Homo sapiens: one gene and its partner. The main gene of each other region encodes a partner of the protein of the gene in region 2 in a complex. Links are inferred from orthologs where the notes say so. Each region holds a gene or a part of one and is shown on either strand. Other genes may lie near its edges. The genes, in order: NR0B2 and NR5A1.

Evidence for each region.
Region 1: the proteins of NR5A1 (region 2) and NR0B2 are in contact, whole or in part, in a crystal structure (PDB 1YMT), measured with the Mus musculus proteins. The link is inferred for Homo sapiens from one-to-one orthologs. Residues at the interface, in NP_001303616.1 of Mus musculus: Ile275, Val278, Arg282, Phe287, Val292, Gln295, Met296, Leu299, Gln300, Asn450, Leu452, Glu455, Met456; in NP_035980.1 of Mus musculus: Thr19, Ile20, Leu21, Tyr22, Leu24, Leu25, Ser26.

Annotation. Positions count from the first base shown.
Region 1 is NC_000001.11:26,911,999-26,915,906, forward strand, and holds the start of NR0B2 (nuclear receptor subfamily 0 group B member 2), read right to left. Parts: upstream 1,978-3,908; 5' UTR 1,943-1,977; coding exon 1,411-1,942; intron 407-1,410; coding exon of another isoform or gene 315-406; exon of another isoform or gene 89-314; coding exon 1-88. UniProt on the Homo sapiens protein: Transcriptional regulator that acts as a negative regulator of receptor-dependent signaling pathways. Specifically inhibits transactivation of the nuclear receptor with which it interacts.
Region 2 is NC_000009.12:124,505,534-124,509,441, reverse strand, and holds the start of NR5A1 (steroidogenic factor 1), read left to right. Parts: upstream 1-2,042; 5' UTR 2,043-2,193; intron 2,194-3,908. UniProt on the Homo sapiens protein: Transcriptional activator. Essential for sexual differentiation and formation of the primary steroidogenic tissues. Binds to the Ad4 site found in the promoter region of steroidogenic P450 genes such as CYP11A, CYP11B and CYP21B.

The DNA of each region.
Region 1 (3,908 bases), on a different chromosome or scaffold from region 2:
CACCAGGGTTCCAGGACTTCACACAGCACCCAGTGAGCCTCCTGCTGCAGGTGCCCAATGTGGGAGGCGGCTTGGAGGCCTGGCACATCTGTGGGCAGAGAGGGAGAAGAGGGCTGGTGAGCACCCTACTCCCAGCCACCAAAGGACAAGACTGGCCCAAGATCTGGGCCATCAGAGACACCCCTCTGCCTCCTTTGCTCGGCCTTTGAGGTCCCACTACTACCTCCTCCTTTAGAGGAGGTAATTTATTTATCAATTTTCAATGTATTCATCCATCCATTTATGAAGAGGCAGTGTGGAGTAATGGTTAAGAATTAGGCTTCCTGGGTATGAATCCCAGCACTGTCACTTATTAGCTGGGTGACCTTGGGCAAGTCACTTAATCTCTGGGCTTCAGTTTCTTTATCTGTAAAACGGGAATAATAATATTAATAGGACCTGTCTCCTAGGCTTTTATGAGATTTAAATGAACTAGTATATGTAAAACCCTTAGAATAGGGCCTAACATATGGTAAGTGTGATATGAGTATTTGCTACTATTATTACAATTAATTACTACGATTTATGCGTGCCACAAGGGACTCCTGGGGAACTCTCATCTCAGATGCTCTCCAGATTACAAACAGCACTGTCTCCATCTGCCGCTCTCCTGGCCGAATTCCATAAAGACTCCTTTCCTGTCCTCCCTACGCCCCTTTCAGTCATCTCTTCTATGTGATCTTTCTGAACCCACAGAGGAGTTTTAGCTCTAGAGCTTCACCATGCAGCCTTCCTTTGAGGATGTGACTGAGACACAGCTGTGTCTGCCCACCCCACCTCCCCACAGCCTTCTGTAAAGGTCAGAGCAAATTTCTCAGGCAGAGTGGCAAGGGCCAGTCTCTGGAGTGAATAGACCTGAGTTGCCATCCTGGTCTGTCCCTACCTGGCTGTGTTACCTTTAGCTAGTCACTTAGCTTCTCTGTGCCTCTTCTGTGAGATGGCTATTTGATGAAAATGAGGACTGGCCAAGCACGGTGGCTCACGCCTGTAATCCCAGCACTTTGGGAGGCCAAGGTGGGTGGATCACCTGAGGGGTTAGGAGTTCAAGACCAGCTTGATCAACATGGTGAAAGCCCATCTCTACTAAAAAGTACAAAAATTAGCCGGGAGTGGTGGCGGCCATCTGTAATCCCAGCTACTCGGGAGGCTGAGGCAGAGAAAATTGCTTGAACCCAGGAGGCAGAGGTTGCAGTGAGCCAAGATCGCACCACTGCACTCCAGACTGGGTGACAGAGTGAGACTCTGTCTCAGAAAAATAAAAAGAAAATGAGGACCCAATGAGATAACAGATATCAAACCCTTAGAAGCTACCTTCCCTGGCTGGCCCCTGCTTCAGCCTTGCCCCCCACCCAGGAGTGTCTGGGAGCTCACCGGGGTTGAAGAGGATGGTCCCTTTCAGGCAGGCATATTCCTTGGGGCTAAGCTCCAGGCTCCAGAAGGACTCCAGACAGCATTGAAGCCACTGCACCGCAGCCAGGGAGGGCTGGGGTCTGTCTGGCAGTTGGCCACTGCCTCCACTGCTGCTGGGCTCCTCCAGCAGAATCTTCTTGAGTATGCTGGGCACCGGGGCCTCAGCCACCTCAAAGGTCACAGCATCTTGGGCCAACCCAAGCAGGAAGAGGGGGCCCCAGCAACCCTGCAGCAGCCGCCGCTGGTCCTGGGGAGGCAGCTGCCAGAAGGATGGCAGGTTCCTGAGGAAGGCCACTGTCTTGGCCAGAACATCCAAGGCCTCCCGGCAGGTGCGATGAGGTGCACATAGCTGGACGGGCCGGTGCTGCCTACATAGGCAGCGGCTACGGGGTCGGGGGACAGCCTTGAGGCTGGAGCTCAGAAGTGCGTAGAGAATGGCGGGGCGGCTTGCAGCTCCCTGGCATGGGCAGGCCCCTGGTTGGCTGGTGCTCATGGTTAGGGATCTGCTCTCACTTCCAGCTCTCTGGCTCTGTGTTCTGCGCTGTGGGTGCTATTTATATTCCCAGTGAGTGGAACGGGGGGAATGGCCCAACAACCTTGACTCCAGAAGTCATGTTCATTGAAAAAAACACACAGACATTGCCCCTGGCAGGAATGGTGGGGAAGTGGTGGGGGAGGGGGCATTGGGAACCCCACGTGGCACTGATATCACCTCAGTCAATGAAGTGGCCGGTGCAGGGCACAGGGCCACCTGCCGCTCACTCAGCTGCCCCTTATCAGATGACTCAAGTGGATAAACAAGGTCATTAACTCAGGCTGTACCAGGGCACCAAGGCCCCAGGTGCACAATCAGCAGGTGTCCCCATTGGTGCCCGCTCTTGTGTGCACAAAAGACTAGGGCTTTTGCTAAGCCAGGAAGCCAGCCCCAGAGCTGGGTGGGCCTTGAATGCAAGGCCCAACCTGGAAGTGCCTTATCACTAGCTTGTTTGCCTAACCTTGGGGCCCTGCTTCTGTTGTCAGCCAGAAGCAGGCTACAGGGAAGGGAGCCAGGACCCTGGGGGCTGGGAGGACTTTGCCCACTGTCCAATCTAGGAGGCCTCCTCCTCTGATTCCAGTTCTGGGCCCCCTGCAGGAATAAGGTCCTTCAGAATCCTTATCCCCAGCCTGATTCCTACCACTCCTGAAAGGCCAGGTCTGCTGAGAAGAACTCACAGAATTATAATAAAAGATAGTTGCCAGCCGGGCACGGTGGCTCATGCCTGTAATCCCAGCACTTTGGGAGGCTGAGGAAGGGGGATCATTTGAGGTCAGGAGTTCAAGACCAGCCTGGCCAACATGGCAAAATCCCGTCTCTACTAAAAATACAAAAATTAGCCGGGCATGGTGGCATGTGCCTGTAGTCCCAGCTACTCTAGAGGCTAAGGCAAAAGAATCACTCGAAACTGGGAGGCAGAGGTTACAGTGAGCTGAGATCATGCCACTGCTCTCCAGCCTGGGCAACAGAGCAAGATCCTGTCTCAAAAAAATATATATGTATATGTATATGTATATGTATATGTATATGTATATTTATATGTATATGTGTATATATATATACACATACATACATACATATATATATATATATATGTATATATATGGTTGCCATTCTCTAAGCACTTATTATGTGTCAGGCACTTCCCACTCTAATATTGGCAGCCTCTTCCTAAGGCTAGATTCTTACTTTATGAGACTAAAAAAGCTAAAGTGACTTGCCCAAGGTCATCCCACCAGGAAGACAAAGCCCAGATCTTGCCTGACTCCAAAGTCCTTGTTTGTTTCCCTGGACCCACTGGCCCAATTGCACAGCCAGAGCCTGAGATTCTCAGAGCTTGTGGCTAGCTGCCCCCACCTTGCTGCTGCCTGCTTTGCAGACGTTGCCCACTTGTGATCTGGGCAGAAGTGTTGCTCTGCTGCCACGTGGCTCCTCTGTCCCGGGCATCTTTCTCAGATGGTGGAGCACAGGGGATGAGAGAAGGTGGAGAGGCCCTTGGTTGTGTCATGTTCCTGGACCTTGGCCAGTCCAGTGTGGCAAGCCTTCTGCTGCATGCTGTTGGGCAGCCTGGTGCCCTGGATGGGGAGAGAGAGGCTCTGGCATCACTAGCCCTGGCATCTGCTCCAGAATCCATCACTTTTTGGTTATGTGACTTGGGTTGATCCTTGAACCTCGATAAGCCTCCCTGGGACAATAATGCCTGGCTGTAGGGCTGCCATGGGGACAAAATGAGGTCCTGGTTGTTAAATTCCAAGTGGTTTCTGGCATACGGTAGGAGGATTTTTCTGCCCCTTTCCTCTGTGGAGCTGAGCACCAGTGGACAAACAGGCACACCTCTTTCATTTGATTATTAGTCTTAATCCTTAAATTTATAAAGTTCCTTTCATGTTTTTAAATCTCACTGAATTCTCACAGTGTCCCCTTG
Region 2 (3,908 bases):
TAGGGACACTAAAAAAAGAATATTAAAATAGGGAGACTAGTTAGGTTCAGCCATATGCAAGAGAAGTATATCTTGTAAGAACTTCTCTAGGTGAAAAAGACATAATTACAAGGTCATGCACATTGAGGAATAAGTTGTCTGTTACGTTGTAGGTGGAATATATTCGATCAGTTAGCTATGACTGTTGGTGAAATTATATTATAAAAATTATTATTATTGAATTAATGATTATTAATTATTAAAACCCTATTGCCCGGGCTAGAGTGCAGTGGCACAATCATAGCTCACTGCAGCTCCAACTCCTGGGTTCAAACCATCCTCCTGCCTCAGCCTCCCGAGTAGCCGGGACTACAGTCTATCAGTATTATTGTTGTATGTTCACACACAATTTTAAGTGGCATAATGAGGAAAACACACACTAGGTTTTATTTTATTTTATTTTATTTTATTTTATTTTATTTTATTTTATTTGAGACGGAGTCTCACTCTGTCGCCCAGGCTGGACTGCAGTAGCACAATCTTGGCTCACTGCAACCTCTGCCTCCCAGGTTCAAGCGATCCTCCTGCCTCAGCTTCCCAAGTAGCTGGGACTACAGGCACAAGCCACCACACCAGGTGAATTTTTCTATTTTTTAGTAGAGATGGCGTTTTGCCATGTTGGCCAGGCTTGTCTTGAACTTCTTGACCTCAGGTGATCCGCCCACCTTGGCCTCCCAAAGTGCTGGGATTACAGGCATGAGCCACAGTGACTGGCTGGAAAACACATAGGTTTTAAATATAGTTGGCGTTTCTACTTTTTCAGTGGCCTTCCATGAAAAAATATATATAGGGAGAGTTGGCTTCACTTCACTTATCCAGAAAAGTCCCTCTTGTTCCAGATAAGTGAGGTGTTGGGTGTGATTTATTTATTTCCTCCAATGAAGGGATATGTGGGAGGAGGGGTGGTTCTCAACAGTGACTGCCCCATAGTCACCCTGTGCCCCTCCCTGCTCTCCCAAGATGAAAGGCACGGAGGTAAATCCTCTGAGGACAGAGACTTTTCTTCTCTTTCCTATGGGATCCCTGGTGCCTGGAACAGTGCCTGACCCCTAAGTGTGCGCTCAGTAAATGTGAGACAAACAGAGGAACACACAAAAGATCCAGTCACCGTGGGAGCGGCACAACACCCTGCAACCCGGGCCCTACAGGAACAGGATATTTCAGAGCCCATCTGGGCCCAGAGATTGGATGGGGACGTCCCAGGTTGTCTAGGGAGGCCTAGCCTTCTAGATAAGGGCCCCTTCCTGCTACCCTGTCCTATCCTGGACTAGCTTCATACTTGGTTCAACCTGGGGCCACTATAGCCACCACTTGGCCTCAGAGGCAGTCTCAGCCCAGCCTCAGTTTTTCCAGCCATCGACTGGGAACATCAGCAGCCCACAGCAGATGAGGACATTCAGAGGCCACCGTGGCATGCACGCACCAGGTGTCCAGGCCGCTCACCTGCTCCCCTTCCGGCCCCCCTCTTCTTCCACCTGATGGAAGAGGAAAAAGAGGTGGAAGCAGCAGGCCGCCTAGTCAAGTCGCCATGGCCTTGCCTCCGCACTGGCCTGTCCTGACTCTACTCCAATGTCCGGGCTGGGCCAGACCATGCCAGGCCAGGCCCCAGGGAGGTAGCCATTCACAAGGAGAGAGGAGCAGGCGGCAGGCCGGGTGGGGGAGCAGCCCATAAATCAAGCCCCACTCCCACCCGGTTTCTAACAAGCGGGGCTGCCTACCCGCCTCTGTGGGGTCCCTGCCTCTGGGCTCCCACAGCGGGCCTGGAACAGCCAGCTGGCCAAGGCCTCTGCAGTGCCTTGGCCTCCGCCCCCACCCTCAGCCCCCAGATAGATAGGGGTATTTTTTTTCTTTTAGGAGAAGAAGAAAAAATAGACGTAAATGAAGAGAAACACCAACAAAGAAGGCGAGAGGCCTGCAGAGTCACGTGGGGGCAGAGACCAATTGGGCCTCCGGTGGCCCCCCCACCAGGGCGGGGAGGAGGAGGAGGACGGACGGACAGGGCCAGCCTGCTGTCCGGCTGCCGCCCGCCGTGGTGTGAGGGGGTTTCTGCGCACCCACAGTCGCCACCGTCCCACCTGGGCTGCCGGAGCCTCCCCCTGGACCCCTGGTGCCCACTGCCACCCTCATCCGGTGTGAGAGCGCTGCTTCCGCTTCGTAAGTGAGGGCCTTGGCCCAGGCCTCTAATGGCCAGCCTCCTTCTGCAGTGCCTCCCTGCAGCCTGGGCCGGCCACTGCCTGCTCCACTTAGTGACCGGTGCCCCCTGCTCTGGGCAGGGAAGGTGCCAGGGGTCTCCCAGACTCACCCTCCCACCATGCTACCCCCTCTTCTTCCCTGGGCTGCCGATGGGAGGAGCCAGGCCTGTGACCACAAGCCCCATGGAGGTCCGCTGGTGTCCCGCTGTCTCTGGCCAGGCATCCACCAGGCTGTGTGGGTCTGAGCCTAGAGGTCTGTGAGTGTGTCTGGAGGGCTCTGGGCCTGTCTTGGGGCTCTGTCCCCCACCTGAGTTTCTGTGTTGTCTCTGTGGCTCTCTCTGAGTCTTGCTGTGTATCCGTGTGTCTGTCTCCGGCATCCATCTGTCAGCCTGGGTTCTGCGGCCGGGCCAGGTCTAGGCTTCCCTCCCTGGGTGGGTGGATGAGGGGCTGGAACTCCCCAGGCGGTGGGCTGGAACCTGGAACCTGTGGGGGTGGGTGCCTCGGAGCCTGGAGTGCAGAGGAGCCATGGGCTTCCAGCCGGTGAGAGTAGAAACCCTTGGGGAGAGGGGATTGGAGATAGAGGGAGAAGGGCCTGAGCCCAGCCCCCACCCAACCCCGGCGGCTGGGGCCTGTGTGTCCAGCTCCAGGTTTCCAGGAGACCTCGGGTGAGCTCTACCTTAGAACAGCCAACTGGGGCACCCCAGCCCATCATCCACCAACCCCCTTCCCTCCTGCAGTCACTGTCTGAGGGCTCCATTGTGGTGGGGAGCTGTTCAGAGGCGGCAGTGACCCCCACCTCCAGCTCGGGCAGATGCTCTTGTTTCTCAGGGGTTTGGGGGTGCGGGGGGTACGATTAACAGGGTCTCTGGCTCTTTCTTCCCTCCTCATCCAAGATTCTTGCATGGAAACCGCAGTACCCCATCTGTAAAGCCAACATGTTCCACTTTATGCTCGGAGAAAACTGAGGCTCTCGTTTCAGAGAGGAGAAGTGACTTGCCCGAGCTTGCACAGCTAGTCTGCGGGTTCTGCTCCTTCTGTGGGTGAGCCAGCTGAGTGCGGTCTGCGCGGGGGGTTCTCTGGCCACAACTTGCAGGCCCCAGGCCCAGCTCCAACCGAAGCCCGAGGCCTCCAGGCGGGCGGGAGCCCAGATGGAGCCTTTTGGTGGGTTGCGCCGCTGTCAATGCAAAATTGCGGTATTTTCCTGCTTGAAGATCGCAGCTTTTTGGCCTCATGGTCCCCAAACTCTCTCTGACCCCAGGTGCCAGCGGGGGCGGAGGCAGGATGCAAGCAGGCCCCTTCCTTTCGGGTCCGTTTCTCCAGCTGAAAAACAGTGGCCCCGCGGATGGTCCCTAGCCCAGAGCAACTGCTTGGCCCATAGGCCCGGGAACCCCTTTGTCCCCAAGACCGCCCAGCGCTTTCTTCCTCGCCCCACCCCCCCGTGAGAGCTCCGAGGGGAGCAGCGGGGCCCTGCCTCCGGGCTCCTCTCCCAGCTCCTGCGCCCGTAGAGGCTTCGGGTCCCCCCAGGCCTCGGACATTTGTAAAATGGGATTTCCACGAGTCCCATTTCCAGCCCAGCGACCTGAGGCTAGCGAGCAGAAGGGGTTCGCCCCAGATCTCCCCAGAGGGGCGCCACTGAGCGCTTCCGCCAGGCCACACGCGTGCTTTGCCCCTACTGCT